Linked DNA regions of Homo sapiens: all the other regions are linked to region 3. The links come from fine-mapping of genetic effects on gene expression. A gene starts in region 3. Each other region holds a variant in brackets. All regions are shown on one strand. Distances are from middle to middle. Region 1 overlaps EXOC6B (exocyst complex component 6B). Region 2 overlaps RAB11FIP5 (RAB11 family interacting protein 5). Region 3 holds the start of RAB11FIP5 (RAB11 family interacting protein 5).

Region 1 (10,230 bases), 890 kb after region 3:
TTTCTCTTTTCCTCCTCCCCATTAAAGGCATCACTACTCAATCAGTCACTCATACTAAGAAACCTGAGATTTATTTGAAACAAATTTACAAGAAAAAAACAAACAACCCCATCAAAAAGTGGGTGAAGGATATGAACAGACACTTCTCAAAAGAAGACATTTATGCAGCCAAAAGACACATGAAAAAATGCTCACTATCACTGGCCATCAGAGAAATGCAAATCAAAACCACAATGAGATACCATCTCACACCAATTAGAATAGCGATCATTAAAAAGTCAGGAAACAACAGGTGCTGGAGAGGATGTGGAGAAATAGGAACACTTTTACACTGTTGGTGGGACTGTAAACTGGTTCAACCATTGTGGAAGTCAGTGTGGCGATTCCTCAGGGATCTAGAACTAGAAATACCATTGGACCCAGCCATCCCATTACTGGGTATATACCCAAAGGATTATAAATCATGCTGCTATAAAGACACATACACACGTATGTTTATTGCAGCACTATTCACAATAGCAAAGACTTGGAACCAAGCCAAATGTCCAACAATGTTAGACTGGATTAAGAAAATATGGCACATATACACCATGGAATACTATGCAGCCATAAAAAATGATGAGTTCATGTCCTTTGTAGGGACATGGATGAAGCTGGAAACCATCATTCTCAGCAAACTATCGCAAGGAAAAAACCAAACACCGCATGTTCTCACTCATAGGTGGGAATTGAACAATGAGAACACGTGGACACAGGAAGGGGAACATCACACACTGGGGCCTATTGTGGGGTGAGGGGAGGGGGGAGGGATAGCATTAGGAGATATACCTAATGTTAAATGACGAGTTAATGGGTGCAGCACACCAACATGGCACATGTATACATATGTAACAAACCTGCACGTTGTGCACATGTACCCTAAAACTTAAAGTATAATAAAAAAAAAGAAACCTGAGATTTATTCTTGATTCTTCTTTTTCTCCCATTTTACTCATTTCCCTGGACATAAGGTGCATTATCAAGTGATGTCAACTCCATGTCCTACCATACCTCATCAGCCCCATACTTAGACACTTTTGATCGCTTCCCTTTGCCTAAATGACCAAAACCAAACATCCTTCTCCTGGTAAAATCCGAACTTCCTGACTCCAATCTACTTTAACAGCCTTTTCTACTTTTTCTCTCTCATCTATACTTCAATCATACCTTCCCCCAAATTCCTTGCCCTTTCATATCATTTTATCTTTGCAATCACTCTTCCTCCATCATCAATACTCTTCTTGGCCTGGTGAATAACATTAGGAAGCCACATTAGTTGTGTAACACTAAAATAAAGCTATCACCTCCTTAGTTTTGTTTTTACACTACAAAGTTGTTTTGCTAAGTTGAGTAAAATTATAAACATCCTAGGGAAAGACTCTTGTTAAAAAGAAGACATATAGATTTAAGTTATTTATTTATAATTTTATTTCAGTGATTAAAAGAATGTGGTATTTATTAAGGTTTGCTTTATAGCATCTTTGTGGCCAATATTTGTAAATGCTCCATGGATCCTTGAAAGAATGTGTATTCTCTGGTAAATGAATGCAATGTTACATATCCAGTGGATAAAACATATCAGTTGTGCTCTTCAAATCTACTACATTTTTACTAATTTTTAAAAATCTTCTTTTATCCGTTACTGAAAGAAGGTGCTAAAATCTCCCTCTGTGATTATGGTATATCAGTTTACCCTTATAATAGTTTCAGTTTTCACTTTGTGTATTTGTGTGTTTTCAGACTATGTTATTGGTTATGTACAAGTTTAGAAATTTTATGTCTTCTTGGTGAATTATTCTTTTACTAGTGTGTAGTGACCCTTTTTATTCCTATTAATGCTTTTTCACCTGATAGTTTTTACTGGACCGGTTTTCCTTTTCAGTACTTGCTCAGTATGTGTTTTTCCATTGCTTGACTTTGAACTTTCTGCATCCTCATATTTTAAATTTATCTCTTATAGGCAGCATATAGTTGGATTTGCTTATTAATACAATCTGAGAACCTCTATCTTTTAACTGATGAATTTAGATCATTGCTGTCATATTTTCCTTTTTAACATCTTATTGTGCTATTTATCATACCTTTTATTTGCTTCTCTTGTTTTGTTATCTTTTATTTTTTATATTTTGGTTTTAAAATGTTAGCATTACAGCTATGAATGTATGGAATGCAGATATAATTCTTTTGGTTTTATATAGTGGTTGTCAATTCCATTGCTTCCTACCTATCTAACAAATTTGCTTCTGGTTAAGAGGGCAGATTCCCAAATCTTAAAACACTTGTTTTTGCTTTTGACATTATTTAATTGACTGACAGAGATGTCAAATATATATAATAATCACCACTTGGCTGTTCACATACTGTACCTTGAAAACCAATTCACTGATGTGCCAGGTCTACTGACTTAATGAGCGAAGTTAGTCCCTTCATAAGTGCTGCCAGAATGAGAGTGCTTTGGTAATGACATTATGACCTAGTCAAAGTGAACATAAAACCTAAATTCACACTTTTTCTGTAAAACATGACAACCTAAGTAAACCTAGATTTTTAAAGGGAATGGCAGGGAAAATGGAATAATGAAACAACTTACACATTAAGAGTACAACTTTACTTTCCAGCAACACCAAACTGCCCTGTAGTTCCTTGTGTGGATGGTGCTATTTTCTTCCTTCATGTCTTTCCTTCTACTGCCTCCTCCCCTGCTGGGATAGCCTTGTCTTTTTCGCTCTGTTTTTTTAAATAAACTTTTGGGGGAATAATTTTAGATTTACAGAAAAGTTGCAAAGACAGTATTTAAGAGTGCCTGTGTGCCCTTACTCAGTTTCTCCTAATGTTAACATCTGTTTTTTATTACAGTGAAACATTTGTCACAACAAGAAATTAACAATGATATATTACTATTAACTAAACTGTAGACTTTATTTGAATTTCATTAGTTTTTCTACTAATGCCATTTTTCTGTTTTAAGACCCAGTTGAGGATACCTCGTTGCATTCAATCATCATATCTCCTTAGTCTCTCTGTCTTCTATTTGATTGTTTTTTAAATCCCCTTTCCCCTCTTTTTCCAGCAAATGGTTGTTTTACATTCTCTTTCTATTCTTTTAAAAGGGGTTTTACATTCGATTTCTAGTCTTTTAGAAGTTACCAACACACTGTTTCTTAGGGTGTGGCGAGAGAGTCACATACGCGGTTGTTGCTGTAGTACTATAAATGGATACAACTTCTGAGGAGGGAATTTGATGTGCATGTCTTTTGATCCAGCAGCTCCACTCCAGGGACTCAGTCCTACAGATTTATATACTTACATGCATTTACCAAATTATTCACTGTGTCATTTTTTATAGTTGTTTAATAGGATACTAATAAAGAGGTGCTTTATATATGGATAAGAAATAATGCCCAATATATAGTTAAATGAATAGGGATAGGGGGTGAAAAATGTAAAACTGTATTTTACTTTAGTATGCCATGATAAAAAGGTTTCCTTATCATCTCCCTATACCAAGGGGTAGATTTGTTTTCTGGTCTACCCTTTCACCAAGGTTCAGCTCTTGAAGAGCCCTGTCTTCACACAGAAGTCTTAATTCTAACCTTGCTCCATAGACAAGTCTAAGTAATTGTCTCACAGTCTCCACGTAGGCTTGTAAACCCAAGCCTCGGATCCTCCCTGTCCTCTAGGGCCACTAAAGGAATATTTATGTCACTATCTCATTCCAATAATGATTTTTTAATTCAGTGTCAAATGTGTCAACAACTCTTTCACCTAGAAATATGAAAATTTAATAAAGAATAATGTCTGCAAAGAACTTAGCCCAATACCTGACACATCAAGTGCTCAGTAAGCATTAATTTGTCATTGTTGTTTTGTTATAATTTTCTGACTGTTGTTAGACTTGTTATTGATATTTATATTGCCATTTCTCAAACTTTCTTATACTTCTTTTAATGAACATAAAAATATGATATCCTATGTAGTATTATTTCAAATTATAAAATAAAGCAGTTTGATGTCTAAAATAAAATAGGCTGGGCGCGGTGCCTCATGCCTATAATCCCAGCACTTTGGGAGGCCACAGTGGATGCATCACTTCAGCCCAGGAGTTTGAGACCAACCTGGACAACATGGCGAAACCCCATCTCTACTAAAAAAAAAAAAAAGTATGTGTATTTATATATATATACACACACACACATACAGAGAGAGATGTATATACACATACAGAAATATATGTATACACAGACATATATATACACATATATACACATCTATATATATACACACATAGATGTATATATATATATACACTTACGTATACATATATATATATACACACACATACACACATACACACACGCACACACACACACACACACACA[G/CAG]ATTAGCTGGACGTGGCAGCATGCATCTGTAGTCCCAGCTGCTTGGGAGACTGAGGTGGGAGGATCACTTGAGCACAGGAGGTTGAGGCTGCAGTGAGTGGAGATTGCACCACTGCACTCCAGCCTGGGCAACAGAGCGAGACTTTGTCTCAAATAAATAAGAGCAGTGATAATTCTCAATATGCTTTTTGAAACTACACATATATTTATTTGTTCCTTCCTCCTTTTCTCTCCAAGAAGATTCTGATGTACATCCTTCCAATGAAAGAGTACTTGTACCCTACTTGAAATCCATTTATTTAGTGTGTTTCCAATTTTGTACTGTTGATTTTATTTTTAAATTTTTTTCCTGAGAATTGAGTAGTATGTATCTTTGTACATATAGCATTTTTAGTCTAGTAGATGATTCCCTTCAGGTAAATGTTTATGAGTGAAATCGTTGTGGTAGGGGGTAGAAATATTTTGTGATTCACAAGAGATAAGGTAATATTTCTTTCAAAATGATTTGTCATCGTGCTATTTGCAGTGGAGGAGTATGCTGATTTTACCAAAACCTTGCAGAGGAGTTAATATTTTTAATTTATTTGCTAATCGTTAGGTGTAAAATAGCAACTTCTCATTGCTTTGTTGCCTATTTCCCTGATTACTAGCAAATGCAAACTAGATGTTTATATAACATACATTTCTAATACCTTTTATTAATTTAATGCATACTGGCCAGGCATAAATCTCAAAAATCCTCGTTTAGGTGCTGGAAAAAAATTGGAGCTTAAATAAACCAAAATAGGAGAGAAATTAAACAGAAAGTGGCTGTGTTTATAAACAAACAGCCTTGAAACATAAGACCATTGTGATAATTGGAATCGCCTGTATTCCAAAATGTCCTGTTTAATAGATGCCAAGTTCACCAACTAGCTGGGAAAAGACAGAGCAGTGTGTTTACCCCTAAGGTGGTCAGACAAGACAAATCTGAATTCCTAGGCTCCACAATTACTCTCTACCCAAAAACTTATGCCCCAGTCCATCTGAGTGTTTGCATTAGGGATTCTGTCCTCCTGAAGTGTTACAGGACTCTTGCTTTAAAACAAACAAACAAACAAACAAACAAACAAAAAACAGGCCTTCACTAGGTCTGAGAGCCTTCTGTCTTTATAAATGTATTTAATAGTAAATCAGAAACACATGTTCTTTTTCCAAACACCATTTTAATTCAAAAAAGCCCTTTTCATTAGATGATATATACACAAAGGCTACAGATTACAAAGGCAAAAAATTTAATTTTAAACTATACAAGGATGCTTGGGAAAAAATCTTAACAGGATAGTAATCAGAGATGCTAACCCTTCTGGCTTGCTCTGTTTGCAATCTACTATTCATCAGGAATACTGTCTAGGGAGAGCCTGAAATGGTTTCATAATCTGTAACCACAAAGGGATAACTCAGATTTTTATCTTTTATACACTGCACTCATAACTTGGTGGTTTACTCACTTTCCCAAAGTCTAAGTGTGTATGGTCCGATTTAAAACAAGCTGAATGAGTCTTTGTGTTTTGTTGTTTTGTTTTTCCACTGTATTTTCTGAGTAGTGGTCTCTCAGTGACTGTTAGCTATTGAAATCAGTTAACCCTCATACCTTTATCTGCCTGTTGGGCTCCTTCTACATTTTCAACGAATTAGAGCAGAGCCTGGTGACCAAGGAACAGGCAGCTGTGGTTTTTGGCATAGGATGGAGGCAGGGGTATAGATCAGAGAAGATGAATCTTAGAGACATACTGAACACAGATGCTATTGCTGCTACACATTTTCAGTGCTAGTGACTCACATATATAACCACTAATCTGTGAAGAGAGAGTGAGTATATTGCAAACCCTTACATAAAAGTACCTCCTCAGTGCCTTAGCCGTCAGCCTCACCTTATTGCTTTAGTTACTGAAGGATAATGAATATGTGAGATGCCTAGCAGGAGAGTTCCCTCTGCCCAGTTAGGGTTCAAAGTAGCTTGTGATAAGTTATTTGAAATGCTGGTGATGCATTAAATGAGATACACAGCTCATTGTGCAATAATAATAATATTTTCCACAAAAATGACCCATGTAGCCCACCAGCTGCATGACCTATCTCTAAAACAGCCTAGTACCAGATATTTCCTGAGGAATATACTTGTACCCCATAAGGACACAATTATGAGACACTGTATGTATCATAAGAAGAAAGGTTATGTGCTCTCTCCAGCTGATAATCAGCTTAGCTTCTAGTCCAGGGCATTTTATTTGTTTTTGAGATTATCAATAACTAGATACAGTGACACTCAAATATACAAGGTTTTTGTATTTTAAAATGATTAAGAAGCTTCTTGAATAAACTGTCCCTTGCCTTTGGCTCTGCCTATAAAAATATAATCATTATATACTTGTTCTTGTGGTCTACACAAAAAACATTTTCCCCCATACTTTAAGGCCCACCTTTCCTGTAGAAAGCCTTTTGCGATCAATTGTGGACACAGAGCCAACCCTTTGAACTTTTCCACACATTGCATTTTCCTAGAGCAGTGTAGAGTGGCAGTCATAGTATTCCCTATATCTTCTAGGACTCACTATTCAAGTACCTAGAACACACCAGGTAGTGGGATCCAGCAAAAAACAGAACAGAAGTTGTACATGTTTAAAAGAGTCCCCATCTTCCCTGGCTATTCCATTAGTGAATTCTCCATGAAGCTCTTACTGACTTATCATGGTGAGTTCACTGGCCATTTCTCAATACTTCTGGATCTCTGCTCAGTCATCTTTCACCTTTTCCTTCATCTCCCTTGCCCTTACCCAGTTTCACCTCCTCATCTTGATGCTGTTAATTGGCTGGCTAATTCATAAGAGTTTCCCCAAACCAAAGAGAAGACAGATAAAAGAATTTAGTCACAGAGTATTTATGATTTTCAGATATAACGTCAATCAAATAGAACATGATTTTAAATATCTTCTGGGCCCAAACCCTGAGCTGAGTATAGTGACAATTCAGAAGAAATTAGTTCTACCCCTGGGTAATTTAAAAGTTAATTATTCTTAGAGGATTATTCATTCATTCACTTATTCACCATATGTTTGCTAAACATCTGCTATGTCCCAGGCACTTGAGATACATCAATGAACAAAACAGGCTGAGATTCCTGACCTCATGGAGTTTACAGTTTAGGGTAGACGAGTAAGGAAATAGATAAATAATAAGCATAAATAATAGATTCTGTAGTTGTAGTTGTAAATAAGTGCTGTAGAAGGAATTAGAAAGCAGAAAAAGGGAAAGGGATTGGAGAGTATGGGGATTTGGGAGGACAGGTTGCAGTGTTAAATACTGTAGTCAGAGTAGGCCTGATTGAGGTGAGAGATGACAGTGCCTTGAGGGAGATGAAATAGGCGGATATCTGTGAGAATAGCTTTGCAGGCAGTGGGAGAGCCATGGTTTATCATTTAAAATTTACTGGCATTTTTAAATTTAGTAACTAACGTAGAGTCCTTTAGTCTTATTTTTCACAAGTAGAAACTCGTTGTACCAACTGAATGTCAATCCTGGCTTAAAGTGACTTTCATTTGAGGCAGATTTTTGACAGAAGCCATTGTGTTTGTTTTACAGATTGGAAAAGTAAGTCTCAGAAAAGAAATGGGAACTAACTAGGGTGTGGGAGAAGGATGAAGAGAAGTTGACTAATGGCTACAAATACATGGTTTGATAGAAGAAATAAGACCTAGCGTTCAACAGATCAGTAGAGTGACTATGGTTTACAGTAATCTATTGTGCGTTTCAAAATAGCTAGAGAGAATAACTTGAATGTTTCTAGCACACAGAAAAGACAAATATTTAAGGTGATGGATATCCTAAGTAAACTGATTTGGTGTTTACAAAGTATGTGAATGTATTAAATTATCACCTGTACCCCTAAACTATGTACACCTATTATACCTCAATTAAAAAAATTAATAAGGAAATAAATGTCTTTAGAGTCACAAAACTGAACAACATTACCCAGGGTACAATGTTTGAGGTTAGTACAGCAGTAGTGTATCGTGCACAGTTTGTCTTCATCGTTCTTTAGAGATTTTTTTTCTTATAAAGTAAATTGATTTCAAATATTTTCTTTGATATGATGTTGTCACGAATTTCCCTATGCAATATAATAAGCTTGTTATAAAACAAGTTAAGTGAATTTCATTGAAGGGATGAAATATATAGCCTGAAGATCCGAAATACAAGCCTAGATCACTTTTTAGTGGCCAGAACCACACAGTACTTTCTTTGAATGCCCTGCAAATTATTAGGGATGTTTTCTTGGAGGTCAGAGTGCCCATCTGGAAGGTTTCTAGGGCTAATGATAGGAGTCTGCTTGTGATCATCTCTGCTGCCCCCAGGGGGCATGAGGAGGCAGCCCTCCTTCCTGTATTTTCTAGTTGCCTTGGCCAGATTCTAGAGAGCAACACATCTGCTTGGGCTCAACTGGGGGAGGGGCAGCAGAGATAGGACTTGCAAGTAGCAGGGCCAGCACCTAGAAGCAATTAAGAAAGAATGGAGTATAGTCCTTAAACGAGCTCAATCCACTTTCTTCAGGCCCTGGAAAATACGAATGCCAGCAGATAAATTCACCTGATTTCCATCTATGGATACCTAGTGGAGCCTTAACATTAAAAGCTTATTAAAACATTTATGTAGTATTTGAAATTTCCAAATCCCTTTACAATTGTTTATTGGCTACTTAATCTCTGCAGCTTCCCTGAGAAGTAAGTTGATACTTTCATCCCCATTTTGGAGATTAGTCACAAAAAGGTTAAGTGACTTACCGGAGGCTGTACCGTGAGTCAGGTCCCCAGTAACTTCATGGTACATGGACCCGTCTTCAACTGTGTCTCCATCAGCACAAATCACTTAACCAATCTGAGCCTTAGTTTTTCATAAATACATGGGATACTAATGATCTTTGTACTACCAATTACAAAAAAAAGATTGTGAAAATAAAATGAGGCAAACTGAAAGTGCTATAATGATAGTTATAATTAGGTGATGGATTAAGGCAGAAGGATGCTGCAGCCTCATTATTTCATATTTAGGGAGTGCTACTTGTTTGAGGCCAGAGCAGAAAAAAATGAAAAGAGAAAACCTATGGCTGACCCTCTAACAACACTAATTCCTTCCTCTTCCTGTTTGACTTAGCTTAGGTTAGATAGAGTAGGGAAGAGAAGGAAAACAAAGAATAATAAACTAAATATTTAAAGAGTGAGGAATGCTAGGAGGAGAAAAAATGAAAGAGGTAAAATTGTGAGTCCTCAAGACTAGAATGACAATACTATAAACTGCTAATCTTGACATAAGACTTATTGTATGAACTCAAGCAGTATTGCAGCATGGAGAGAGGGGCTTAAAATTTGAGAGCAGAGAAGTCTTTAGTAGCTGGATTCTGCTGTCCAAACCATTGGTCTGTGTCCCAGATCTGGTAATGATCATTGAAGATCATATAGTCCTGCCCTCTTCCCCCTCCTCCTTCCCCCTTGCTCCCTCTTGCCACTGTCTGAGCCAAGCTTTAGAAAGTGAGACCAGTAACGGTTATCAGTGTTCACACATGGCTAGGCACTTGATGATTGCAATCGATGTTCCCTTCAGCCTTCTCTTCTCTGGTCTTAGGAATCCCAGACCAATCCTTTATTTCAGTATTATCACTATGGAATGCCAGTGCCTCTTGTCGCCCATAGAAAGCAAGGCCCCCTGATACAAACAACCACAGGTACAATTAAGTTACTAAGACATTGGTTGTTATTTTCATTCTCTCCATTTTTTT
Region 2 (10,230 bases), 20 kb after region 3:
GTGGTGGCTCACGCCTGTAATCTCAGCACTTTGGGAGGCCGAGGCGGGTGGATCACCTGAGGTCGGGAATTCGAGACCAGTGTGACCAACATGGAAAAACCCCGTCTCTACTAAAAATACAAAATTAGCCAGGCGGGGTGGCACATGCCTGTAATCCCAGCTACTCAGGTGGCTGAGGCAGGAGAATCGCTTGGACCTGGGGGTGGAGGTTGCAGTGAGCTGAGATCGAGCCATTGCGCTCCAGCCTGGGCAACAAGAGTGAAACCCCATCTCAAAATAAAATAAAAACATAAAGAGGGTGAGGGGTGGTTGCAGTTGGGGTACTCAGGGAAGACTGAGGAGGCTTGGATGAACAGAGCCCTAACTCGAATGAGTGAGTGAACCATGGCCAGAAGGTCTGGCCTGTGTCTCAGGCAGAGAGAGCAGCACGTATAGTGGCCTTGAGGTGGGAACACACCTGATGGGTTCAGGGACACCAGGAGAATCACTGTGGCCCAAGTGGAATGAGAGATGCAGAGGAGCCAAGCCCCAAAAGGTGCTGAGTGAGGGAGAGCGGGGCGTGCTGAGCTCCCACTTCACGTCTTTGCTGGGTGGAATGTGGACGTCAGGTAAACAGGGAAATCTAATGTCCATCAGGGAGGTGGTGGTGGATGGGACTATGGGGTGACAGTGGTGAGAGAGTGAGTTCTGGAGATAATTGCAGGTAGAGTTCACAGAGTTTGAAGTTTAGATGTAGGGAGTGAGGGAAAAGAAGAGACAAATCTGGTTTCTAGGTTGTTTGGAGTCTGGAATAAATGATGAGTGGGGGCTCAGAAAGGGGCATTGTTATTTGGGTCTGAATTTTAGACTGATAAGAATTGGGGGTGAGTTAGATGTGTCCAGGCCTGCTGCTGCAGCTACCCATAGCCCCCACACCCCTGTCTGTCTCTGACTGGAGTTCCCTGGCACTTGCATGGGTATGTGTGACAGCTGCCCCAGGTCAGCTCTCCCCTGAGTGCAGGACCTCCCCAGTTATGCTGGATGGCATTGGTTAGCCCAGCTTCATTTTCTGAGAACTAGGTGGAGAGCTGGTTATGAGGGCCTGGGGACCCCACCAGCAGGAGTAACTAGGGCTGTAATCTTGGTGACAGGTGAGCAGACTTGCTCCTCTCCACCCCTTCCATCCACTTTGTCCTCTGCTTTGGTGGTGGGTGGGGGGAGGCTGAGGGCCGAGACCCAAGTCCACACGGGGCCTGGTGAACTTTGTCAGGCAGAGAGAGCTTGGGAGAGGTGTTCTAGCTTAGCAGGGGGCCCTGTAAGAGCTTCCTTGTGGTCCCAGCCTCTCAGGAATTCTGGACCCTGATGGCTTCTGAGGGAGGCTGGGCTGCTCTCGGACAAGGTTTTGAGGGGCTAAGGACAGGACAAAACCCTGAGGTCCCCTCAGTGGCATCTCAGGGCTCTGTGCTCTGGGATTGTGCCAACCTTTTGAAAGGGGGTCTGGTCTTCAGGGTCTGTGATGTGTAGCCAGGCCTTTACTGGCCTCTGTCTTCTCAGGGTACTCAGGGCAGGAGTATATGCATTCTGCTTTTCTGAAAGTTGCTAAACCTTAAAGGTTAAGGACATGGGCTTGGAGGCTGGCATTTTCATGTTCAAGTTCCAGCTCCATTACTTACTAGCTGTGTGGCCCTGGGCAACTTACAAACCATCTCCACAACTTAGTTTCCTCATCTGTAAAATGGGCCTCCCATCTCCTGGGCTGGTTGCATGGATAATAAAAGAGCTGCAGAGCCAGGCACACAGTGAGCCCTCAGCAGGGTCAGCTCTGGCCATTCTCTAGCCCCCTCATGTGCAGCCCTCTGCTCAGGTGTGGCCTCTGGGCCAGCAGCAGCATGGGTAGCTGGGAGCTCTCTCAGGTCCACCTACACTTTGGGTATCAGAATACACATTTTAACAAGATCCAGTGATTTTTTTTTGCACTTTGCAGTTTGAGAAGCACTGATGTGTGTCTTCTGAAGAGCAGCATCAGTAGCTGCGTGTGCCTCTTCAGGTGCAAGGAATTTTCTCTTACTGTGCCTTTTCTTACTGTGTCCATCATGTCCTGGCTGCAGAGGCACCTGGGACAAGTCCCAGATAATCACCATCTTCATCAAAACCCTTGTGTCCTGAGCATGTGCTGGCTGGGCCTTGGAGAGTTCAAGTGCCCCAGATGGTGCCCCTGACAGAGAGATGAAGTCAAGGTGGGTGCTTTGCAGGTGGAGCAGCTTAGTTCCTGCAGTGAAGGATGTGCCAGTTAGTGATATATGTGCTGCAGGCAGCCCGGACTCTGAGCACCAGGTGGGTGTCAGGGGAATTGTATGGGGGCAGAATCACTGTCCTTCCTCCTGGTTTGGTGAGAGTGTTGTTTCTCCAGTGGTTTCTGATCTAGGAGGCCTAATTCATCTTAACACTCTTAATTTCTAGAAAGTGCTTAATGCTGCCTGCTCCTCCCCAGTGTGTTCCTTTGGTAACTTACCCCCTCCTGGGGGAGGGATGAGTATTTCTAGGGTCAGTCCTCTCAGAAGCAGCGTGTCCTCGGGACTTGGGAAGGCAAGCCTTACTGGGCAGGAGAAAGACACAGGTTTCTCCTGGGTACCGATTGAGTGTCCTTAAGGACAAGCCCAGGTGGAGAGCCCAGGTGGCCGCTGACCTTAAAGTGATGTAAAGCGTTAGGGACCATCCTTGTGGTTCCCACATGGGGTCTGGGTGAATTCACTCACCTGTGGGGCCCCACCCCCAAACCCACTGAGAAATATAGATAACCAGGCCGGGACCTTCTAGTTCAGTAAGTCTGGGTGGCGTCTTGGGTGGATTTATATCTGTATATAAATCCTGCACCGATGCATAGCAGGTTTGGGTGCTACAGCTGTGGAGCTGTGAAAATGAGAGCTGTCTTGTGAGCCATTGTCTAGATGAATGTTGGGGCCTTGGTCACACCCTGATTGATTTTGGCCATGTCTCTGCCCTGGATGAAAGTGACAGGTCAGGCCTCAGCTTGGGCTTTGGAGTTCCTAAGCCCAGTGCCCCAGTCAGCTAGGCCTGGTGAAGGGCACAGAGAGGGAGAAAAAACCTTGATCAGGTAGGGAGGAAGGAACAGTAGCAGAATCTCCAAAACTGGAGACCAGGGCCTATCTCTTGCACAGCCAGACTTGGGAAGTTGAGGTTGGATTTTTTTTTTTTTTTTTTTTTTTTTGAGACAAAGTCTCACTCTGTTGCCCAGGCTGGAGTGCAGTGATATAATCTTGGCTCACTGCAACTTCCGCTTCCCAGGTTCAAGTGATTCTCATGCCTCAGCTTCCCGAGCAGCTCAGATTACAAACGTGTGCCACCACACCCAGCTAATTATTGTATTTTTAGTAGACACGGGGTTTCGCCATGTTGGCCAGGCAGGTCTCAAACTCCTGGCCTCAAGTGATCTGCCCGCCTTGGCCTCCCAAAGTGCTGGGATTGCAGGCATGAGCCACCATGCGCGTCCGAGGTTGAATATTTATTAAAGGATCTGGCACGTTCCCTTGAAGGCTAGGCAGAGCGATCGGCGTCAGGGATTCAAGAGCAGGAGTCCTAAGAGCTCACGGTCGTGGGAGAGAGTGAGAGGATAAGCTGGTTTTGCCAACCAGGCTTGGCGTGCCTTAGCCTCCCAACAGCCAAGAGGATGGTTGTCCCCACCTGAGGGCCAAGGAAGCGGAGGCTGAGGGAGGTGACCTGGTCAGTGGGGGACCCAGCACTCACCACCATGCCCTGCTGTCAGGCGCATCCAGATGAGAGCTGAGAGAGGGCCCTGCAGGGTTGTAACAGCTCCAGACTGTGCATGCATGATTTCTTTACTTTGGAGCTGTGTGCCCCAGGGGATACTCAGTCAATATCCACAAGAAACACAGTCCAGCAAGGGAGACCTTGGGTGCCCAGGACATGACAACACCAGGGGGTCCTGGGGCACGGTGCTGCCAGATCTGGCTGTAGAGTGAGTTTGGTTCAGAGTGTGTATGCCTGGTCAGAAAGAGGAGGGACTGGGCCAGGCCAGCAGGATGGTGGCAGCTGAGGGAGCTTCCCAGAGGAGTGGGACTTGAACTAGGTCATAGGACCCTGCTGTCATATTCCCCGTGGGGGCTTCAGTCTCTAGGGATGAGGTGCTCAGAGCCCATTTGCTCTGCTGCGTGTGGGGCTCTGTGAAAAGAAAGCCTCCATTTGTTTTCATTGCGGATTCCTCAGCCCCCCTCGACAGTGTTCATAGTTTTCCATTCTCCAGTGGACCTCCATGGTGCCCGACAGGTCTGTGGGGCTGTCTGGTCCAGGCACAGGGAAGTAGCACCTCTAGGGAGGGGGAGGATGTGGCCATCTCAGCTCATGTAGGCCATACTTCTGGGAGAAGGTCTGCTCTGGTTGAGTCCCTGGGGTGCCCAGGGTGGCCAAGGTGCCAGGCAGTATCCCATTCAGTCCTGCCCTTGACTGGGTTGCAGAGGGAGGTGGGGCTGGAAGGGAGGTGGACGAGTGATGGCAGCTGGGGTCCAGAGGTAGGTCCTGGCCATTCTCCATTTCACTGTGCTCTGGATGGGAGAGCCTAAAAAATATTCAGGGAAGCTTTTTCTTTTTCCTTCCGTGCTTCCTTGAAAAACAAGTCCAGGGAGAAACCCAAATTCCCTGTGGGGGAGGGCTGGGCAGAACAGGAGAAGGGGAAGTGACCTTATAGGGGAGAGAGGCCCAAAAGGTCCTTGTGGCAAAGGACCTGAAACTCGGCCTCCCGCCTTCCTCTGAGGGCTGGGAGGCAGAGGAGCACGGCCCATTTTGTGGCTCAGGAAGCTGAGATGAGATAGGAGCAAGAGCTTTCCCTTGTCTCTTTTTCCTATTACCACAGTAATATATGCTCCTTATAAAACATTCAAATAGGACAAAAATAGACAATGTAGGAAGTGCTAGTTCCCTGCAATCTCACCACAGGGCCCCGGTCCCCTCAGGTAATTGCATTACCGCTGTGGTGTGTGCAGTGTGAGTAGCTGGGGCTGAGGGCCCCTGACCTGTCTGCCCCAGCAAAGGCTGGCTGTGCTTGCTGATCCTAGTTACTCAGGGCTTGGGCGGTTTGGGGCTGGAGTCCATACCCTTCTCTTTTGCCCTACCTCCCAGGACTTTCCTGTGCTAGATAGGGCCTAGCCCAGATTTAGGGAAAGTGACTAGGGCTTGGCCTCTAAATAGGTAAAGGGTCAGGCCCACGGTGGTCACTGGGCTGAGAACGTAGAGGTGTGAGGCTGTTGATGCTGCTGGCTGGTCTTTCTGTCAAACTTCCTCTCCTGCCCCACAGACACCCTCACATACATCCTCCAGTCTGTCTGTCTCA[A/C]TTAGCCTCTCCTCCCCTCACTTCTGCCCGTGCCTTATGAGAGAGGCACCCGCTCGGGCATTTTCTCTGTCCGCCCTGCCTGTGGCACCATCTGTTCCTACCCGGCCTTCTCAGGGGATTGTCTCTCAGGTTTGGGAGGGAAAACCAAAGTCTAGGCTCAGGCCGCTCAGGCTGCGGAGTAGGTCTCCACGGAGGGGACGGGCCATAGCCCACCAGGATTTCGTCATGATGGGCTCTTCTATAGGGATGTAGAAGAGTCAGAGGTGCCCCAGGAAGCCTTTTTAAAAAAACTTCAACATTAAAAAATAATCAAAATACTACCACCACTACCACCAAGCTTTTGCTGTGACTTAATTCTGGATCTTTGGATGTATAGGGACTTTTCATACAAAGGCTCCCCACACCCCACTCTGTGTCCACCAGAAGCTCAGGGAGCTGGCATTGTTGGGGGCAGAGCTCAGGCGGGAGGTGGATCCTGCATCACTGACTGCGGCTTGGGTAGCTCTGTGTGCGTGTGTGTGTGTGTGTATGTGTGTGTGTGCTGTGCAGTCACCAAGGGACTTTGAGCCCTTTAGTGACCAGCCTGACCACTACCACCGGGCTTTATTCCACCTTCATGCTCGATTGGCTGGGTCTGGAATTCCAGGCTAGTGGAAGGCTTTTCCCTCAGAAATGTGAAGACATTCCTTCATGTGGTGCCCAGTGTTGCTAAGGAAGACTCCAGTGCTGTTCGAATCCTTTCATGCCTGGTGTTCTAAGCCTCATAGTCATATCTGTTGGCATGTGTCTGTCTTAGTTCATTGCGCTGCATACTTGTAGGACTGTTCTAGCATTCATGTTCTTCAGTTCAGAAAAACATTCTTGTATGATTTCCTTCATAGTTTCTTCCTTTTTGTGTTCCCTGCTCTCTTTTTTTTAGTTAATAAAGTCTATTTTTCAGAGCAGTTTTAAGTTTACAGAAAAACGAGTGAAAAGTATAGAGAGTTCCCATCTACTCCACCCACGCCCCCACCGCCATTTCTTCTGTTAACATCTTGCATTAGTGTGGCATGTTTGTTGTATTTGAGAGCCAATATCAACACGTCATTGTTAACTAGAGTCTATACATTATGTTAGGGTTCACTTGCTGTTTTGTGCATTCTGTGGGTGTATAACAATGCATGTCCACCATTACGGTAGCATGCAGGATAGTTTTTCTCTCCTGAGAAGTCCCTGTGCTCTGCCTATTCATCGCTCTGTCCTCTCTTCAATCCCCCAGCAACCACTGATCTTTTCACTGTCTCCATAGTTTTGCCTTTTGCAGAATGTCAAATAGTTTTGTCGTGCAAGCATGAAGCCTTTTCAGATTGTCTTCTTTCACTTATGTATGTAAGATCCATCCGTGTCTGTTCATGGCTTGATAGCCTATTTATTTTTATCATTAAGTAGTATTCCATTGTCTGGATGTACCACAGTTTGCTTATCTTTTCACCTACTGGAGGACACCTTGGCAGCTTCCAAGTTTTGGCAATCATGAACAGAGCTGCTATAAACATTTGTGTGCAGGGTGTTTCTTTGGACATAAGTCTTTACCTCAGTAGGCAAAGTACCAAGAAGTGTGATTGCTCCTTGTGTGATCGGAGTTTGCTTAGTTCTCTAAGAAACTGCCAACCCCTGCATAAGAACATCTCTCCCCAGTAGGGCGGGCCCCAGCCACCCTGTGTGGTGGCCATGTGTGTTGGGGGCTGTCTCTGTGTCTCTCTGGGCACAGTGGGTGTGCACCGGGAAGAACTTAAGCTTTGGAGGGCTGGACACCTGGCTCTGAGTCTCCACGGATGGGTTCCTTTACCACTGAGCCTCACCCTCCTGATCTGTACAATGGGGTAGTACCTCTTACCTCATATGCTTTTTGGGAGGTATGTGCGGGAGTGAGGTAAGAACCCTCATGCTGGTCGTAATGCACCATAGATGCTCAACAGATATGAGCGCTCTTCGTCTTTCCTGGGTCTCTTTCTGCCATTCTTGTCTGTTCCTGCATCTTGTAGAGGTATTCCTGACAGGGCTTGGGGTGAGTCAGTGTGTGAGTGAGGTGTGTGTGTGTGTGTGTGTGTGTGTGTGTGTGTATACATACATGAGTGTATGCACTAGCATTCCTGTGTTCCTGGCCCTGGGCCTCTGGGTGAGCTGTTCTTTCCTGGGCTCACGGTGGCTGGGAGCAGAGCTTTGGCTGGGACTGGCCAGAGGAGATGATGTCAACAGGGAGAAATGTGGGTAGGTCTGTCTGTGCTGGGGCCTGGAGATGGGAGGGCTCTCCCAGGCCCAGCCTCACCCCTCTGGGCCTCAGAGTTTCAGATGTAGGGGAGATGGGGCAGAGGAGAGGTCTCTGAGCACCAGGAGAAGGTCCTGGGGTGGGAGGAGGCATGGTGTGGTAACCGCCGCCCTACCTGGTGGCACCCGAGGAGCTTCCCCACTCAGGATGTGGTTTTCTCCATCATGGAAATGTTTTGGATAGTTTCTCAGCTGCATCTGAAGCCTGGAAGCCCAGGCCGATGGGTCAGAGCAGGAGCCTTTGGGGAGAGGCTATCAGTGGCTCTCAGAGCAAGGAGGGGTCTGGGCAGTGCCTGGTACCGGGCGGGAGCCAGGCTCCCTGGGCCCGTGACTGAGTTCTGCCTGCTCCCCTCTTCTCACAGGTGGTACAAGCTGCACTCCAAGCCAGGCAAGAAGGAGAAGGAACGCGGCGAGATTGAAGTCACCATCCAGTTCACGCGCAACAACCTGAGCGCCAGTATGTTTGACCTGTCCATGAAGGACAAGCCAAGGTCTCCCTTCAGCAAGATCAGGGACAAGATGAAGGGCAAGAAGAAGTATGATCTGGAATCTGCCTCTGCCATCCTCCCAAGCAGCGCCATAGAGGATCCTGACCTGGGCAGCCTGGGCAAGATGGGCAAAGCCAAAGGCTTCTTCCTCCGCAACAAGCTGCGCAAGTCGTCCCTGACCCAGTCCAACACCTCGCTGGGCTCGGACAGCACCCTGTCCTCAGCCAGCGGGAGCTTGGCCTACCAGGGACCTGGCGCCGAACTCCTCACCCGCTCACCAAGCCGTAGCAGCTGGCTGTCCACTGAAGGGGGTGAGCAAGCACAGGGCCGCCGCCCTGGGGAGGGGGGCACTGGCTCTCCCCTTGGGTGGTGATGAAGGCCTGGGGCCAGGAAATGGGGCCTCTCTTCCTGCGAGCTAACTCTGTGTGTTTCCCCTGCAGGCAGGGACTCTGCACAGTCCCCCAAGCTGTTCACCCATAAGAGGACCTACAGCGATGAGGCCAACCAGATGCGAGTGGCTCCTCCTCGGGCCCTTCTGGACCTTCAGGGCCACCTGGATGCTGCCTCCCGCTCTTCGCTCTGTGTCAATGGGAGCCACATTTACAATGAGGAGCCCCAGGGCCCTGTGCGGCACCGCAGCTCCATCTCGGGCTCGCTTCCATCCTCTGGCTCCTTGCAAGCTGTCTCTTCCCGGTTCTCCGAGGAGGGGCCTCGTTCCACAGATGACACCTGGCCCAGAGGCAGTCGTAGCAACAGCAGCTCAGAGGCAGTGCTTGGACAGGAGGAGCTGAGTGCTCAGGCTAAAGTCCTGGCCCCTGGGGCCAGCCACCCTGGAGAGGAGGAGGGGGCCCGGCTACCAGAGGGCAAGCCAGTCCAGGTTGCCACACCCATAGTGGCCTCCTCTGAGGCTGTGGCAGAGAAGGAGGGAGCCCGGAAGGAGGAACGCAAGCCCCGGATGGGTCTCTTCCACCACCACCACCAAGGCCTAAGTCGGAGCGAGTTGGGTCGCCGAAGCTCTCTGGGGGAAAAGGGGGGTCCCATCCTGGGGGCCTCCCCACATCACTCATCCAGTGGGGAGGAAAAGGCCAAGAGTAGCTGGTTTGGCTTGAGAGAAGCCAAGGACCCGACTCAGAAACCCAGGTAAGTCGTTGGCAAGACCAACTTTGCTCCTTGGGGAGGATGCTGGGGTGTGTGCTGCCTGGACCCTGGGGCAGGGAGGAAGGAGTAGATATGGACCTCAGGCAGGCTGCTGGGGCTCTGGCTTTGCATGGTTTAGTGGGGTGTCTCCCTAAGCCAAGGTTCGTTCTGTGCTCACGGACACAGGTGAGTTACGAGGGCATAGTGCTCTGAGAGTCCTATGGATTGAGGGGTCCGACTTCTCAGCCCTAGGCCTTGCTGCATGAGTTGGCATGCCCACCCCCTGAGCTGGAGGGAAGCAGGAAAGTCCATTTGTGTGAATTCTTTGCTTCCTGACCTCCACCTCTTGCCCTCTGGCCTCAAGGTAAGGAAGCCTTGGTAGAGAGATGAGGACTGGAGACCGCACTCTCAGACTTCCCTTCCCCTCTCTGGAGCTAGAGGACTTCTCCCCAGCTGTCTCTGTGATCACTTCCCTCTGGGAGACGGGAGTCAAATAACTGAAGCCACCACTCCTTCCCCCGTCCATTCACCTGCCAGTTGCTTCCCCAGGCAAGAGGCTGTGGGCAGCTCCCATGAAATCTGTAACCCATCTCTGTCCTTGGAGACCCTGGGAGCTCTGGCCCTCTCTGATGTCTCTTGGTCTTGAGGTATGGCACCGTGGGAAGTGCTGGTGGCAGCTGTTTTGTTTTGAATATACTGAGTCCCCCATTTCAGGCCCTGGGCAGAGACCCTGATGCCTACCATTTGCTTCCTCCTAATTCTGAGCCAGGAGAGGCTGCAGAATTGTATAGCAGGGTCCAGAGAGGGGCTCCAGGTACAGGTCACAGAAGTGTGTGTCGCACCTTCCCAAGGGCCTGGGGCCAGCCCTCATAGGCAGCATCTGTGGCAGCCCTGGCCAGTGTGGTGAGAGCACTGTTTCTCTCAACAAGCCTGCCCTTCCCGCTCCATGGCTGC
Region 3 (10,230 bases):
GGTGGAAACAGACTCAGTAGGGTTCAGTAATTTGCCCATGCTTATACAGTTAGTAAGTGGTGGCACCAGGGCTTAGACCTGGGCATGTGGTTCTGCTATAAAGAGGGCCTGGAAAATAGCTGCAGGAAGGTGAGGTGAAGAACAGAGGGAAATGTAGCTGGAAGAGCAGGACAAATACATGTGAAGTGTCTACATGGAAAAGCAAATGGGCTTAGTGGTACTGAAGAGGGGGCAATGAGTGGAAGCTACACATAGGTGGATGCTTTTCAAGCAAGAACTGTCTCCAATGGACTAGAGAGGCCCAGGAAGGCAGTGAGGACACCCAGCCCTGGGGAGGCAGAGGAAACTGATGCTTTTGGGGTCTTCTTGTCTAACTCTTATGCAGGCTGCTGCAGGGAGTGGGGGGGATCTCATCTTATAGAGGAGGAAACACACCTTTAGATGGCCAAGACCTCAGTATCTGGTGTTTCTGCTCTTTTCTCAACCACAGACAGCTAGCAGACCTGGCTTTTCCTTCTAGGGCCAGGCAACGTGGGGTGGGAGCCCTGGCTGGTTTCGTTCCCCTCCTATAGCCAGCCACAGTCCAGAGCCAGCAGGAAGCTTGAGCTTGCCAATCTGTGAGGGCCAAGGCAGGAGGAAAGAGAGCCAGAGGGCAGGTGAGGCAGAGGAGCCATCTGAGTGCTCTCCACCTTTTCCCCTTTCCTGGTGCTTTGCTCCTCCTTGGCGGAGGAGGAGGGAGGGAGGAGGTAGGAGCAGTAACGTTGGAGAACAGGCAAACAGATGAAACAGACCCGCTGAAGGAGTGACACATTTATGTTAGTTGAAGTTTAGTGATGATATCGTCACTTGCAAAGTCCTTGAAGAATTCACTCTTAAAGTGGGAGGTTCATCCTGACTCTTGTAACCTTGGTTGCCTCAATCTTCGTCTGTAAAATGGGTATGAGAACACTTCCTTCTTTATTGACTTTAAATGGATCTAGTGCTTGGCTGACCAACAAGCTGGTGTGAGAGCAGAGTACCACAGCCAGTAGAGCCACTCAGTCTCTACAATTTTCCGGTTGGAGACTTGGGGAAAATCACCCAAGCTCTTCCTGCTTCTGTTTCCTCATCAGTGAAACCAAGGGTAGCACTTGCTTTAAATGGTTATCTTCAGGGTTAAACATGACTATGTGTGTGTGTGTGTGTGTGTGTGTAAGTATTATATGTATATACTTTTTCTTTAGTATACAGACTTATAGCCAAGAGTGATAATATATATAAAGTAATGGTAGAACCAGGACTCCAAAGCCCACAGATTTAATAATTATACTTTAGATGTCTCAAAAACCATAATGTATATAAAACAAACACATACAGTATAAAGACTAGAAAGAAACACAACAAATTATTAACAGTGTTTATTTATGGATGGTTGCGTTATGATTTATTTCCATTTTTTCTTTTTTTGAGAGAGAGTCTCACTCTGTTGCACAGGCTGGAGTGCAGTGGTGCGATGTTGGCTAACTGCAACCTCTGTCTCCCAGGTTCAAGTGATTCTTGTGCCTCAGCCTCCTGAGTAGCTGGGATTACAGGTGTGCCCCACCATGCCCTGCTAATTTTCATAGTTTCAGAAGAGACGGGGTTTCACTATGTTGGTCAGGCAGGTCTGGAACTCCTGACCTCAAGTGATCCATCCGCCTCGGCCTCCCAAAGTGCTGGGATTACAGGCATGAGCCACCAGGCCTGGCCCCATTTTTTATTTTTTTGAGACAAAGTCTCATTCTGTCGCCCAGGCTGGAGTGTAGCAGCACAATCTTGGCTCACTGCAACCTCTGCCTCCCAGGTTCAAGTGATCCTTGTGCCTCAGCCTCCCAAGTAGCTGGGACTACAGGTGCCCACCACCACGCCAGGGGAATTTTTTGTCTTTGTAGTAGAGGTGGGGTTTCACCATGTTGCCCAGGCTGGTCTTGAACTCCTGGCTTCAAGTGATCCACCAGCCTGGGCCTCCTAAAGTGCTGGGATTACAGGTGTGAGCCACTCCGCCTGGCTTGAGGTAAGAATCATTATCCCATTATCCAAATGGAGAAATAAGGCCAAGAGAGGTTAGAGAGTTGGCTTAAACTTCAGGTTTCATAGCTACTAAGAGGCAGATGGCCAATATCTGTAGGCAGATCTGGCTGTCTCTAAAGCTAGGTGCTATCGTCAGGGTTGCTGGACCATGGGGCTGGTGCCTAGGACTTCCCCACTCCAGTCTTCTGATGGAAGAGTTAAGGTGGGAGGCTGTGAGGACTGGGCCTGTGCTGGGTGTGCTATCATGGGTCTCCTCTGCCTACTCTACTGGTTTCCTAGGTTCATATTCCCAGTAGAGGACATGGCCTGGAAGGTGGACAGTTGAGGGGTACTGTGGAGTCTCCCTAAGAAGAAATACATGTTTCTCCTGTTGGGTATCCTATAGAGCACTGGTTCCCCACCTTTTTGACACCAGGGACCAAAATGTAAGTTTCCACAGACTGAGGGTGGCAGGGATGGTTTCAGGATGATTCAAGTGCATTACATTTACTGTGCACTTTATTTCTCTTATCATTACATTGTAATATATAATGAAGCAATTATATGACTCACCATAATGTAGAATCAGTGGGAGCCCTGACCTTGTTTTCCTGCAACCAGATGGTCCCATCTGGGGATGGGAGACAGTGACAGATCATCAGGCATTAGATTCTCATAAGGAGTATGCAACCTAGATCCCTCGCATGCACAGTTCACAATAGGGTTTGTGCTCCTAGGAGAATTTAATGCCACAGCTGATCTGACAGGAGGTGGAGCTCAGGCGGTAATGCGATAGGAAGCGGCTGTAAATACAGATGAAGTTTCACCAGCTAGCCCCTACCACCACTCACCTCCTACTGTGCAGCCCAGTTCCTAACAGGACATGGAGGGTTACCAGTCTGTGGCCCAAGGGTTGGGGACCCCTGCTATAGAGGAACTAAAAATAATAGCATAACTACACAAGATTGAGGGATGGAAGTGGGTGTGAGCCAGCTAAATCATTATCTATCATAGGAGGAAGGCAACAGACAGTGGCCAGTCCTGATAAATGCAGATGTAGCTATGTGAGCATCTTAATGTAGTGATGTGGAGGTAACCATCAGACCTGAAAACACCAGTGGCTTTAAGCAGCATCCCTGGATTGAAGGATGGAGAGGGAGTTCTTGCTTTTCATTGCAAGCCATTCTGTCCTATTTGATTTTTTTAAAAAAGCTGTGTGTATTATTTTTAAATTATTATTTTAAAAGTACAGGCTCTGAAAGTTAAAAAAAAAAAAAACGCTCTGGGGGCATCTAGTGGATTCACAACCCTCCCCCATCTGAGCTGACATTTTATCTTCTGGAAAATAGGGATAAAAGCCATACTCACCCCACAGAGTTGCTCTGAGGATAAAATGAGGTAATGCATATAAAAGCGCACTGACCAGAGTTGGCTGAAATTCAGCATCTATAATTACTAAACATCGTTATTATCAATAATAAACCAAGTATACGTTAATACTTAGGCCCTGGCACACAGTAGGCACTTAATAATGGGTGGAAGTAGTTATTTAACCCCCCACCAGGGCCTGTAATTTCCCCCAACCCGTGACACACTGGCCCCAAGGCTCCGAGTGAACACTTAAATATTGATGTGGTTACTCATTTATTCATCACTCGGCTCTCCGCCGCAGAGTCTGAGGAGGGTGAGCCCCGCTCTCGGGCCTCCCGCGCCGCCGCATGGCCGCATCCCGGCCCCCTGCGCCGGGAGAGATTGGAGGCGGCGGCAGCTCACCCGCTTCCAGGTCGCCGATGCGGGACCGTCACGTGGCGGGGCGGCAATCGCTCCAGTTTCACTCCGGCATTTTCCCCCGCAGGGGCGGACTGGAGGAGGGGAGAGCGCGGCCCGGGGTCAGGGGAGCGGCGGGGGTCCCCATCACCCCAAGTCCGCGCCAAGAGGCTGGCCATCCCAGGAACTGCGGGCCGGGACCCTTTTACGGAGAGGGCTTTCCGGAGCAGGGACTTTTAGAAGGAAGACGTGGGATTGGCCTGGAGGCGCAGAGCGGGTTTTTCGTACCTGGCCGCGGGTGTAGGGCTCCCCACAAGCGAGGCCGGGTTGCTTCGGGCGCCCCCAGCCAGGGGCGGGGCCACCGCGGGAACTCCGCCCACCCTCTGCAGAGGCCGCGCACCGCCCCTTCCCGCTCCGGGCTGGTCTGCGGCTGCCGGGGCGCGAGCTGCGTGCCCGCATCCCTGTCGCACCGCCTCGCCGGTTGGGGCGGCGGGCGCGGGGCGGGGCAGGGGGCGGGGCGCTGACGTCGCGGCGCGGCCCGCGGCCAGCGGCCCGGTGAGGCGGGGAGGCGGCGGCCGGTCGGCCCGGCCCAGCCCAGCCCGCAGCTGCGGCGGCGCTCAGAGTTGGTTCCTGACCGCCTTCTGCCGCGGCCGGGTTTGTCACCAGGTCCTGGGGTCTGCACCGGCTCGGCCAGACCTCGCCCCCCGCTTCTCCGCCATGGCCCTGGTGCGGGGCGCGGAGCCGGCGGCGGGGCCTTCCCGCTGGCTGCCCACGCACGTCCAGGTGACGGTGCTGCGGGCCCGCGGGCTGCGGGGCAAGAGCTCGGGAGCGGGCAGCACCAGCGACGCGTACACGGTGATCCAGGTGGGCCGCGAGAAGTACAGTACGTCGGTGGTGGAGAAGACGCACGGCTGCCCCGAGTGGCGTGAGGAGTGCTCCTTCGAGCTGCCGCCGGGGGCCCTGGATGGCCTGCTGCGGGCGCAGGAGGCCGACGCGGGCCCGGCGCCCTGGGCCGCGAGCTCCGCCGCCGCCTGCGAGCTGGTGCTCACCACCATGCACCGCTCGCTCATCGGCGTCGACAAGTTCCTGGGCCAGGCCACGGTGGCGCTGGACGAGGTCTTCGGCGCAGGCCGCGCCCAGCACACGCAGTGAGTAGGGGGCGCGGGGGCACAGAAACGGCTAAAGGCCTAACAGGGCGGGGCTGGTGGGGGATCAGGACCCCGAACTTCAGCCGGGCCAGTGAGCCCTTGCCTCGTGCTTAAGGGCGTAAACCGACAGAAACGTTGGTTCTTCGCATTTCGGGGTCGTCTTCAAGCTTCCCAAACGTGCGCTGTGTGGGGCTCAGCCACTGGTGGTCCCTGGGAGGCCTGGGGGAGGTTTAAGTGGTGGCGAACGTTAGGAGTAGATTGTCAAGTAAAGTTAGGAATGAGATTCAGAGGCTTTGGGGCTATGGAAACCTCAAGAAGGGAAATCTTGGGGCCGTTCTTAGAACCTCCGGGCCTGCCTCCCTTTCCTCAAAGGGGAGGGGAACTGCGGGCGCCTGTCCGGCAGGGGAGTGGAGAGGCGCAGCCTTGCCCTACGGGGGAAGGAAAGCCAGGTGTCTTCCTCCAGGGCGAGGTTGAATGTTGATTACCCCGCTAAACGTAGAAGCTGGCTGCAGGGGGCATCTGCCTCTTGCTCTCAAGATGCCCTCCACTATCTAGAGATGTCACCCCCCCACCCCCATCCTGTCCCTCTGTGTCCTGTGTCCCTGGTCTGAGGATAGGAGGAGCTTCTAAGTTAAGGAAGGAAACACTTGAGTCAGCCTTCCAGTGGCCTGCCTGCCTGCCCTGCCCTGCCTGAGGTAGAGGCAGCGGCATGGTTAATGAACAGCAGGAGATTATCTCCCGGTCACTTCCACCTCAGTGGGCCAGGGTTTTTTTAAATCATTTATTTTGGCAGCATTTAACCTTGCCTGTGTTAAGATCAAGGCTTCAGCCTTGGAGCCCCATTTCCTGTTTTGGGCTTGGGCAGGAGCTGGAAGCCAGTCCCCGGGGCTGACAGCCTGCTGTGGATCACTCAAGTGGTTAACTTGGGAGTGATCTGGGTAGGAGGGTAAGGGGATTGGGGCAGGACTGTGCCTTAGGTCAGGAGAGGTGCCGGAAAGGTTTGCCCCAGTGGAATGGCATCCACTGAGTGAATAAATCCAGGAAGGCTTGCTGGAGGAGGGGGATGAGCCTGGTGCAAACCCAAATGAAAGCAGGATTTAGGTAAAAAGGATCTGACCTTGAATGTTTTCTGAAACATGGGTGTGGAATGACTTTCCTGGCTGGCTCTCTGTGGTCTGGGATGGGGAGGGCGTTAGTGCAGGTTCCAGGCATGGCTGTGACCTGACTCCATTTCCCCATCCCCTGGCCTGCTCCCCGCCTTCCTTCATGACTTGCTGTTTGGTGGCAGGGTGTGGGATCATGTGGTATATAGCTTGGACCTTGTTTTTTTCCTCCTTTCTGTCCTCTCCCTCCTTCCTGGTTCCTGGAGCCCAAGGGGGTGGGTATATGGGGCGAAAAGCTCTCTCCTGGATCTCTTAGCCCATTCTTTTTCAGAAGAGGTGCCTATCCCCCAAATCATTCCACCCCTTCCCCCAGTCCTTCACCCTCCACCAATCAGCTACTCTGACCAGACTGTTAGATGACACATCTGTTCAGGGGGTGCTGGGGGAACAGGAGGAGGCAGACCAAAAAAAGGCTCCAGGCCTGCAGGGAGCAGCTTCTTTGATTGTTTTTTCCAGTTCCTGCCCTTGCTTTCCTCTTGGCCTCTGGATCTTCCTTAGCTGAGCTGGCCAAGCTTGTAGGTCCAGGTGGACCCATTTTCAGCCAAGAACAGCCTGTCTTGGAGAATTTGACTTACCACCCCTTGATCTGAATGGGAACCTTAATTTATTTTATAGAAATCATCTTTTCCACCAGGATCTTTCCACACCCACCTGGCTGTTTTCTCTGATGCAACAACCTGGTTTATTTATAGAACCGGGGGGGGAACAGGAGTGGGGAGGGTCACTTAGGATGGGCAGAGGAAAGTCTGTGAAGTTGGCCTGGTGCTCTAGTTTACTGGACCTAACAGCATGCCCACTGACAGAGGGGGAGGGCTGTCACCCCCGCTGTGGTCCCCACCTCTGGCTGTAGTGGTCATTCCTGGTGGTATTTCCTGGAGCACCCTGGTGTGGGCTACCAAGACTGAGTCTGAACGCTGCCTGGTAGGGAGAGGGCAAGGCAGAGAAGACCAGGGTGTACCCTCCTCAGCTTTGGATAATGGTGGAAATGAAAAGTATCCATTCTTTAACTCCAGGAGTTGGCTGTGGTGGTCTCAGGTAGGGCAGGTGGTGGCCCTTTGCCAAGAGAGGACCTGACTGGGGAAGGTACCCTTATGGTTAGGAAGGGGCTACAGAGTGGCACTGGACAGATCCCAGTCCCAAAACTGCCACCTGTGGCAAGTCATATAAACTCTTGGTGCCTCAGTTTTCACGTCTGTAAAATGGAGATAATTTATACCTTCATATGGTTGATGTGAGGGATGAAATGAAAATGCAGCTTAAGCACCTAGTACAGTCCCTGTACATGGTAGGTGGTCAGTGCAGAGCAGTGATGGTGAAGGGAGATTTTAGTAACAATGTCTGGAAGAGCTTCTTATGGGATGGGGGAGACAGTCTAGAACTTAGAGCCTAGGAAAGCCTTAGGACCATGGGTGACGGAGTACACAGAAGAGTACGAGAGTTCCCAACAAAATGAGCTGGCCCTTTGCAGCTCTCTGTATTCTATTTGCTGCAAGAGGCCCAAGAAATAGGGCTGGGCTTGAGAGGCCTCTGCAGTCCTGAAACCAGGCTCAGATAAGCCCGCAGCTCTGCAGCTCTCCTCCCTGGCAGCCCTGCCTGGAGCTGCCCCTGCCCTGTTGGGAAGGAAGGATGGCCCAGGGCTTAAAAACCTGGAGACTGGGATTTCACTCCCCGTTCTGTGACTTACCAGCAGACAGGTTACTTATCCCACTTCCTCACTTTGAAAAAGGTCATGATAATAATCATAGAGTTGTACAGATTAGATAAGACACCATCTGTAAAAGCCTTAATGTAGTTCTGGATACATAGAAGCTCTCAAAATATTAGCGTGGTGGTGACTCTGGGGCCCCATTTTGTGTGATGGTGGTGGCTGGGGTTGTAGGTGCTTCAGCAGCCTCCGAAGGTCTTGTGTGAGTGGGGCAGTCTTTGAAATGAGGAATTTCACCAGAGGCTTCCAAATAATTGAAGAGGATATTCTCAAAACAAAATGTAATGGTAGTACACAAGGAAACTAATGATCTCCCCACCCTCAGTAGAACTGTCCATGGATCGTCATGTTCCTGTTGGTCTGGAAATCCTGGATGCTTCTCTGCGATTTATTTTCTGGTTTTTATCTTCAACATCCTTTTTTTTTTCTTTTTTGAGACAGTGTCTCACTCTGTTGCCCAAGTTGGAGTGCAGTGGCAGAATCTGGGCTCACTTGCAATCTCTCCCTCCCAGGTTCAAGCGATTCTCCTGCCTCAGTCCCCTGAGTAGCTGGGATTACAGGCATGTGCCACCACACCCAGCTAATTTTTGTATTTTTAGTAGAGACTGGGTTTTGCCATGTTGGCCAGGCTGTTCTCAAACTCCTGACCTCAGGTGATCCACCTGTCTTGGCCTCCCAAAGTGCTGGGATTACAGGCATGAGCCACCACGCCTGGCCCAACGTCCTTCTTAGCACTCCCCAGTGGGTGTCCTGTGTTTGCCTCCCTAACTCCCAAGACAGGGATGGGATGTGGTGGTTAGTTAGTTTTCCTTGTTCCCTGTGGGGTCAGATGGGTCATTTGGACCTTTTTGGTCTTTATGCGATTGGTGTGGATCACACCCCCAGGGAATGGACCTGGATATATCAGAAGAGGGAAGGAAGGAAGCAGCAGCAAAGGTTTTGGAGTAAGAAGACAGGGCATCTGCCACAAGGCCATTTTGGTTGGGGAGACCTGGTCTTTGCCCCCTGGAATGCTGGTCTTTGTGTGTTTTAGGAGAGGAGGAGAGAGCACAACTGTGTTATATGGAGCCCCTGTCCACCTTCTCCCTCATCCTGATAAGGGTGAAATGGTCCCTGCGGTAAGGCCTGGAGTGTGGCAGACAGGATCGTCATCCTGGGCCTGTTGGATCAATGGTTAGAAGCTGGCCTCTTGGGAAAGCAAAGGCTGTGGGTTCAGCTTGGGTTGGGATCAGTTTGTCTTTTTTCATCACAAAGACTAAAACTGTTGTGACCATGAATTGTGGCCTGCAAGAGGCTCCGTTCAGCCCCTGCTTAGACTGTGCCACTTGGCAAGGGAGCTCGGAGAGCTGAGGCTGTGAAAGATGTAGGTCTGAGATGAGAGCCTTCTGCCTGGCTGGTCATGGTGTTCTGAGACCTCCTTAGGTGGGTGGGTTTGGGGGCACTGGGAGGCACCTGAGGGGACATGCATCCCATTAGCCTAAGGCTGGGATGGTCTTTGAGGGCTTCCATCTATCCCGTAGCCCACAGACAGCCTGGGCAGACAGTTGGTGGGCAGATGGTGCGTGACCCCACAGCCTTCTCTCTGTTGGCTTCTGGGTGTGACTCTGCCCCTCGGGAAACAGCTGTGGTCACTTGAGCCCCTGGCCTTGGCTCCTGCTCGGCCCCAGAGCTGGCATGGGAGGCCTGTGGCACTGCTGGGGAGGTCTACTCTGGCTGCAGAGGAAGGGTGTGGCTGCACTCAGAAGCCAGTCGTTGGTATGCCGAGGCTCCACGGCCCTTAGTTATGGGGTGGTTTTTATTTGGGGTTGCTTGAGCAGCAGCGTCTTGGGGTGTGGGGCGGGGTAGGAAGTGTGACTCCTCAGTCAGGCTGGGCAGCTCCTCCTCTCTGGCCTGGCAGCTTCCCCTGCCCTCCCCATCTGCCCCTGGCCCTGAGCCCTGGCTGGGACCAGGGAGTTTCAAGGGGCCTGTGGTCAGCCCCATCTCTGCCCCACCTGTCTCTCCTTGTAGGCAGCTGGCTGCAAGGCACAGCTCAGCAGAGCCACATCCCGGTGACCTTGAGGGCTGTCCTTCTCTGCTGGGAGCTGCCCGCCCCACTTGTCACTGCTGCCACCTCAGTGCTGTGACGCTCTTGTCTAAACCACTGGCCTGGCCTTGTCCAGATGTTCTCCTGCCCTTCTCACCCTACGCAGGGACAGATGATGAATACAAGAACAGAAGCTGTTGTGGCTCTGCTCCAGGGGAAGCAGTCCTCTTTTTCTTTCCTTTGCAAAATAGTGTAGCCATGAAGCAGTTTTGTTCTTCCCCACAGCCAAGTAATAAAAATGAGTCCACATGTGAGTCTGCTGTGCACCTGGCAGTCCCTTCAGGGAAGAGTCTGATCACAGTGCCCTTACTGAGCTGGCCTGAGGTTATTTCTACC

What was found. PIP is the estimated chance that this variant, and not a neighbour inherited with it, causes the effect.
Region 1: its variant is fine-mapped to the expression of RAB11FIP5 in memory regulatory T cells (Schmiedel 2018, PIP 0.95).
Region 2: its variant is fine-mapped to the expression of RAB11FIP5 in whole blood (INTERVAL, PIP 0.98).

Annotation. Positions count from the first base shown.
Region 1 is chr2:72,218,987-72,229,216 of GRCh38, reverse strand. All of the region lies in intron 20 of EXOC6B (exocyst complex component 6B), which reads left to right. Among named protein-coding and RNA genes, the nearest start is that of CYP26B1, 76 kb to the right of the region's middle. The variant G/CAG (reference allele first, on the strand shown) is at 4,419.
Region 2 is chr2:73,087,099-73,097,328 of GRCh38, reverse strand. It overlaps RAB11FIP5 (RAB11 family interacting protein 5), which reads left to right. Exons shown (of 6, transcript NM_001371272.1): 2 at 8,014-8,450; 3 at 8,580-9,279. Among named protein-coding and RNA genes, the nearest start is that of SFXN5, 21 kb to the right of the region's middle. The variant A/C (reference allele first, on the strand shown) is at 5,345.
Region 3 is chr2:73,107,060-73,117,289 of GRCh38, reverse strand. It overlaps RAB11FIP5 (RAB11 family interacting protein 5), which reads left to right and starts at 4,342. Exons shown (of 6, transcript NM_001371272.1): 1 at 4,342-4,943. The coding sequence starts at 4,513. RefSeq lists silencers at 4,014-4,173, 4,244-4,333, 5,491-5,734.